Homo sapiens: one gene and its partner. The protein of the gene in region 1 interacts with the protein of each later gene in a biochemical or structural test. Each region holds a gene or a part of one and is shown on either strand. Other genes may lie near its edges.

Region 1 (3,821 bases):
AAGGCCACAAATGTGTGGAGCCAGGATGAGAATTCTGAGTCCCAAACTCATGATCACTCCATGGCACCAGACATCCTCACTCTCTTGCTCACAGAAGTAATTTGTCCTATCTGAAAATCACGCTCAAATTGCTTTGGGCTGCCATCCACACATCTTTTTAAAGAAATGTTAAGTGATTATTTGATATTCTTAAATTACAAAACAACTTAGGCTTGTGTAACAAATTTTAAAACAAAACATATATAACATAAAATGATAGCTCTTAGCCTCTAATCTACCTTTCCCATCCCTCTTATGAATCATTTAGTGTATATCTCCCCTTAGCTTTCTTATCACACTATATAAAACGTTCAGTGATTTTCTTTTTTCTTACTTAAAGCCATCACGTGTAGCTTCCCACTTCATTATTTCATCTTTTTAAAACTGCCCTTGGCCAGGCGTGGTGGCTCACACCTGTAATGCCAACATTTTGAGAGGCCTAGGTGGGAGGATCACTTGAAGCCAGGAGTTTGATACCAACTGGGGCTACAAAGCATGATCCTGTCTCTACAAAAAATGAAAAATAAAAAATCTGCCTGGCATGGTGGCATACACCTGTAGTCCCAGCTACCTGGGAGGTTGAGGGGGGAGGATCACTTCAGCCCAGGAATTTGAGGTGGCAGGGAGCTATGATCATGCCACTGCACTCCAGCCTGGGCAAAAGAATGAGGCCCTGTCTCTAAATAGACAGATAAATAAATAAATAATAAAACAGCTAATTGTTCCAGAGTATTAATGGATCAGAATTGATGTAGAGAGTGTCATATTGATGGACAGTTAGATTACCCCAATGCTTTAGTAATCATCTGTACAAATATGTGTTTGAGCATATGCATGAGTATTTCTGTAGGACAGATTCCTAGAATGAGAACCTAGGCTGTGTGCATATTACGTTTTGATATTGTCCAATTACCTTCCAAAAAGACTGTGCTAATTCATACTCTATCAACAATATATAAGAGTGTTTCCCTAACACACTTGCCAACCCTAAATATTGTTGTCAATCTTTTTAAAATTTTGCCACTCTACTGGGTGAAAATAAATGGTATTTTGAAATGTTAATTTCCTTGATAGTTAGTAAGGTTGAGTATCTTTTCAAAGCTTACTAATTCTTTATAAGATTTCAATTGGTAACTTGTTCACGTTCTTTGCCCATTTTTGATAGGTGTGTTGCCTTTTATTATCTGTATGAGTGCCTTACACATTGTGCATAGCGACCTGTTATATGTCTCACACACACCTTCTACCTTCCTCGTCCTGCCCCAGCTTTCCCTTCCTAAGCACGCCGCTGGCCTCCCTGCATCAAACCCTCACCCATCCAGCCCCTGAGCTCTCTAACAGGGGCACTATGGAGCAAGGCGTGTGAGTCTCATTCTAGTTTTACAGACAGTAGAACCCAGTAGTTAAGAGAGCTGGCTCTGGGGTTAGGCCTGGACTCCAATCCCAGCTTCAAACCCTGCTCTAACACGTGCGGGCTTTCTGTCTTTAAGGCTGAACTGCTTAACTGCTCTAAACATCTGTTTCTTCAATGGTAAAACAGATAATAATAGTATCAATCTCACAGGCTATCTTTGTGTGCAATAAAATAGCTAGCATTTCTTGAGTCCTTAATTTGTGCCAGTAAATGTATCACAATATGCTATGAATATTGTATTCTATGTGTTCAATGTATTATAATAACGTATTGTTTACCCCTGACAATGCTATTGTGTATTTGTGTATTCACAAAGCCCTCAGCACAGTGCCCACCAAACAAATGTTAGCTTGTAACGTGAGACGTACTCCAGCCCTGCTGCATGGTCGTGTGACAGCGTGTGAAAGCATTGCCCTCTGCCTAGCATGCCGCGTCTCTGACCCTGTGGCCAGTCCTCACACATAGCTCCTGTTGGGCAGCTCCAGTTCTCTCCACCCCCACTGTATCTCTCTGCCACTTTGGCAGCCTTTCTCTGCCTCCTCCAACTCTCCTAGGGTTTTGTTGAAATTCACCAAATCTGAGCCCAGTGCCCTAGATTCCTGTGCACACAGATTCCATGGGTTCAAACTCTGGTGATTAGGAGGCATGACACAGGAAAGCCTTCTCAGCATTTTTTGTTTGTTTATTTGTTTGTTTGAGACCGAGTCTTGCTCTGTCACCCAAGCTGGAGGGCAGTGGCATGATCTCGGCTCACTGCAACCTCTGCCTCCCGGGTTCAAGTGATTCTCCTGCCTCAGCCTCCTAAGTAGCTGGGATTACAGGTGTGAGCCAACAAGCCTGGCTCATTTTTTTGTATTTTTAATAGAGATGGGGTTTCACCATGTTGACCAGGCTGGTCTCGAACTCCTGACCTCATGATCCGCCCACCTTGGCCTCCCAAAGTGCTGGGATTACAGGCTTGAGACACGGCACCCAGCCTGCCTTCTCAGCCTTTGATTCAAACACTAGCTCTTCCATTTACTCCCTGTGCAGGCTTGGGTGAGTTGTGATTACTCAGCTTCTTGGAGCTTGGTTGTACTTGTCTCAGAGGGTAATAGTGAAGATGGCCTGCCCTCGGTAGAATACTTAGCACAGCCCACTGCAGGGGCTCAGCCAGTGCTGCCTCTTCTCCCGCTTCTTCCTGCCTGCCTTTGGTTCTGACTCTCTTTCTAAGGCATTGTGTTGCTTTTTAAAGCTAAGTTAGCACGTTGTATCAATGCCTTTAGGAAACAGCTTCCCTTTGCTCCTAGGACCCTTCCAAAGTGATAACAAATACTTCGAGAGCCATGCTTTTTCAGGGGTTTCTGAACCATTTCTCTCTTGGCTGATTTCCCTCGTGGACAGCAGCATCCATTACAAAATGCCAGCCCAGGTTCAAGCCTTGAATTGCCTTCTTTGTTGGAATATAGGAAATGTTTGCTGAGTGAATGAATGAATGAATGAATGAGTCAGTGCCAGGATCTTTGGTCAGATATTTACAGCCCGTCTTAATCTTGCTTCCTTTCCAGCCTTTCCTCCCTTTACACCTTTCACCTCACCCTTCCCTGAAGCAAATCGCCCACTTTCCCCATTCATCTCTTCCCAAGGCTTTGGTTATTTCATTCCCTCCCCAACCACATGCTTCATTTCTTCAGGACCTAGTTCTGCTGAATTCTCAAGCACTTTCCCTGTGCCTCTCCTGCGGTGCTGTGTACTTTCTCTCTGGTGTCATCACTCAGCCACTGTCCTTTCTTCCTTGGTGACTCCGTGTGGTGGGTTCCTATTTGCTCCATCTCTGTGCTGTTCCCAGTGTCTAGTGCAAGGCTTTGCATGTGGTAGGCATGTAGGCATTTGCTGCATGAACGTGTGAACCATCAAGAAGACCCATTTCTCACCATGCCAACCCAGCATTCCTGGGTTAGAGCAGAAGTTCCAGTGCCACCAACTCCAGGTCCTAGGACAAACAGCTCTGAGTAGAGCTTCAAATCGCCTTTGGTCTATGATATGGTTTGGCTGTGTCCCCACCCAAAATCTCATCTTGAATTGTAATCTGAATTGTAATTCCCATGTGTTGGGGAAGAGACCTTGTGGGAGGTGATTAGATCATGGGAGTGGTTTCCCCATGCTGTTCTTATAATAGTGAGTGAGTTCTCAGAAGATCTGATGGTTTTATAAGGGGCTTTTCCTCACTTTGCTCTACACTTCTCTCCCCTGCTGCCATGTAAAGAAGGATGTGTTTACTTCCCCATCCACCCATGACTGTAAGTTTCCTGAGGCCTCCCCAGCCATGCGGAACCAATTAAACCTCTTTCCTTCATAAATTACCCAGTCTCAGGCAGTTCTTTATAGC
Region 2 (3,821 bases), about 60 Mb from region 1:
CCACGTGTTCTCACTTAAAAGTGGGAGCTAAACATTGAGTACACATGGGCATAAACATGGACACGAGGGCTTACTTGAGGTGGTGAGGGTAAGAGGAGGATGAGGGTCAAAAAACTGCCTATCTTGTACTATGGTCAGTTGCTGGGTGACGAAATAATCAGTACACCAAATTCCAGTGACACAGTTTGTCCGTGTAACAAATGTACATATGTGCCCCCAAACCTAAAATCAAAAAAAATATGTGTAGAAAACAAAGAGCAAAATGAAGGACCTAAAACCTAAAAACCATTTATAGTCAATATATAAAAAGGCTTAATACCCCAGTTAAAATCAGATATGGATAAATTTTATAAAAACAAAGTAAACAAAGAGGGTACTGACTCTTGTGATAGTTGGATACCAAGAACCATCCCTCACTGGGGCATGCTGTGGCTCACACCTGTTATACCAACACTTTGGGAACCCAAGGCAGGAGAGGATTGCTTGAGCCCAGGAGTTTGGCACTAGCCTGGGCAACAAAGTGAGACCCTATCTCTACAAAAATTAAAAAAATTAGCCAGGGGTGGTGGTGTGTGTCTGTGGTCCTAGCTACTCAGGAGGCTGAGTCGGGGAAGATTGCTCAAGCCCGGGAGGTCGAGGCTGCAGTGAGCTGTGATTGTGCCATTACACTCCAGTCTGGGTGACAGAGCAAGAGCTTATCTCAAAAAAGAAAAAGACTCCATGATTTAATCTAATCAACTTCAAAAACCCAACTCATTCCTCCACACGCCCTGTGCCTTGGCCATAGCATTTACCTCACCATTCTCCTATGCATTATCTATTTTTAGACCTCTGTCTCCCTTTGTTTAAAATGTTCTCCCAGCCTGGATAACATAGCAAGACCCTGTCTCAACAAAAAAAATAAAAATTAGCTGGGTATGGTGGCATGTGCTTGTAGTCCTAGCTACTTGGGAGGCTGAGGTGGAAGAATTACTTGAGCCCAGGATATTTGAGGTTACAGTGAGCTATGGTTGTGCCACTGTACTCCAGCCTGGGCAACAGAGACCCAGTCTGGATGAGAGAGAAGAGAGAGGGGAGAGAGGAGAGAAAAAAGAAAAGAAAAGAAAAAGAAAAAGAAAGAAAGAACCCATCATCTATGAGTGCTGTCCTCACTGAACACCAGAGGCTGGGTATTGAGTTTACATCAGCTTTTAATGAGCTCTCACTAGGTTTCTTCACCCATTCAATGGGAAGGTCTGCTTCAGAGCCATAATTGTGTTCAACGGGACTAGGTTGCAAGGTTTAATAACTCTTCTCTTCTTTTTAAAATTTAATTACTTTATTATTTCACCTTTTTTTTTAAAGCCACATGTAGGCTGAATTCATTTAATTTGACAGAATAACACTCCTTACTGCTAATCCTGATCAATTTTAGCTTTGTGTGTCTTTGGGTTGGATCCACTCAGATAAGAGGACAAAAGAGGGCCGGGCATGGTGACTAGTGCCTGTAATCCTAGCACTTTGGGAGGCCAAGGTGGGCGGATCACCTGAGGTCAGGACTTCAAAACCAGCCTGGCCAACATGGTGAAACCCCTGTCTCTACTAAAAATACAAAAATTAGCCTGGCGTGGTGGTGGGCGCCTCTAATCTAAGCAATTTAGTGATTTGAGCTGGGCTCGGGAGGCTGAGGCAGGAGAATCGCTTGAAAACCCAGGAGGCGGAGCTTGCAGTGAGCTGAGATCGTGCCATTGCACTCGCAAAAAGAGCGAGACTCCATCTCAAAAAAAAAAAAAACCATTCAAAAAGAGGACAAAAGGTTCATTTGGAAAGAGGATATTAAGAAATAAGGAGAAATCATGAAGGGAATTTTAAAATGAAAACATATTTAGTGGCATTGTTTTCTGTTAGGTTTCAAAAAAGTCTCCATTCCAAGTGAGTATTGGTTTAGGAATTTCTTTCTCCTTATTAAAAGTGTTTTCCTATTTACAGTGAAAATAACTTTAGTAAAATTTTGTGAGTACTAAACTTGGATTTTAAAATCAGAGATTTCGATTATATAGTCTGGAGCCTCAGGATTTTAAGTTTCTGTAGGATTGGGTAAAATGCCATTGTAGATTTTTTGGTCATCAGATTATAGAATAAATACTTAAAGTAACTTCAGATTATTATTTTCAAAACCATAGCAGAAACTCTTACCTTACCTATCTTATTGAGAGACAATGTGAAGCCAAGACTAATGGAGTTAGTGTGCTACATTGATGATGAATGACTGGGTAGTACACCACAGAGGGCTGTGTCATGGAGTGTAAAGGTGTTATTCCATTCCTACACCCTACCATCCGTCTTTCCCCATTAAATCAAGGTCAGGGAATGTTACCTTATGTGATTAAATCTGGTAGAGTCATCATTAAACAGGTGAGATAAATCATATGCAGAGTAACCTACTTTTGGTATTGATGAGACTAGGGTGGTTCTTAAGTATTTTATGGAGATCAGGGTATCTTCCTAAATCCAGATGAAGAGATCAGGTTAAGAACTGCTCGCTTTCAGGCTCCACCTGAAGAAACTATGTAGTAGGCTTCTCTCCCTCTACTTATTTTATCATCTTCTTTGATCTAATAAAATGTTTTCCTTATCAATAAGTAATGTTATCTAGTTTGGCTCTACCAGGTGCTAGAGAAGGCATTCATCATTGTATTGTACTTGCAATAACTCTAATACAGGAAAATGTTCAAACCACCCATAATAAAAGTAGCTAAAAAGCAGATTTCTTAAAGACTTTGTGACCGTTTAAGCTCAGCTGACCTTTCTAAGTTGCATGATTCTTAGAAAGGTCCCAGAGAGATGTCTATCTGGTGCTATATAGCAGTTGCTAATTAAATATTTTTTAATTGAATGATTGATATGAGTTGAACACCCAGTAATTATATTTAAAAAGTGATGACTTCAGTGTTTTGACGCCTTTAAAAGGCTACAGTGGTACAAAATGTAGGTGCTACCATGTGAAATTTGAATGTACAGTGAAGTACATATATTCACTGCAATATCTAGAAATAAATATGTATTCTTATAGGTAGAGGCTAGTTTATCCTTGTAATTCTACTGATAAATATAAATGTATATATTGGGGAAATTTGTGGGACTTTTTCAGTATAAGGAAGAAAAAAATCTGAAAATTGAACTCACTGCAGAAGAAATTTTTTGTATTTTCGGGGGAAGTACCAACTAGATGTGCTAACACTTTGTATTTCTTTATGTTTAGTTGCCTCTTTTTTTTTTTTTTAAACGGAGTTTCCCTCTTTCACCCAGGCTGGAGTGCAGTGGCACGATCTCGGCTCACTGCATCCTCTGCCTTACAGTTTCAAGTGATTCTCCTGCCTCAGCCTCCCAAGTAGCTGGGATTACAGGTGCCTGCCACCACGCCTGGCTAATTTTTGTATTTTTAGTAGAGACGAGGGTTTCACCATGTTGGCCAGGTTGGATCTCTTCACATCCTACTGAGCAATAAATGAGATAGCCTAGAGCAGTGGTTTTCAATTTCAGGTAGTTTTGTTTCCCAGGGAACATTTGGCAAAGTCTGTAGACAATTTTTTATCTTTTTTTTGGAGACAGAGTCTGACTTTGTTGCCCAGGTTGGAGTGCAGTGGCATGATCACGGCTCACTGCGGCTTCCACCTCCTGGGCTCAAGCAATCCTCCCACCTCAGCCTCCCAACTAGCTGTACCACCACACCCGGCTAATTTTTTAATTTTTTGTAGAGACAGAGTCTCACTGTGTTGCCTAGGCTGGTGTCAAACTCCTGGCCTCAAGCAGTCCTGCTTCGGCCTCCCAAAGTATTGGGA

The links.
Region 2: the proteins of RAB7B (region 1) and RNF115 form a complex in vitro, tested with the Homo sapiens proteins (one study listed by BioGRID).

What each region holds. Positions count from the first base shown.
Region 1 is NC_000001.11:205,996,684-206,000,504, reverse strand, and holds part of RAB7B (ras-related protein Rab-7b), read left to right. Parts: intron 1-3,821. UniProt on the Homo sapiens protein: Controls vesicular trafficking from endosomes to the trans-Golgi network (TGN). Acts as a negative regulator of TLR9 signaling and can suppress TLR9-triggered TNFA, IL6, and IFNB production in macrophages by promoting TLR9 lysosomal degradation.
Region 2 is NC_000001.11:145,814,023-145,817,843, reverse strand, and holds part of RNF115 (E3 ubiquitin-protein ligase RNF115), read left to right. Parts: intron 1-3,821. UniProt on the Homo sapiens protein: E3 ubiquitin-protein ligase that catalyzes the 'Lys-48'- and/or 'Lys-63'-linked polyubiquitination of various substrates and thereby plays a role in a number of signaling pathways including autophagy, innate immunity, cell proliferation and cell death.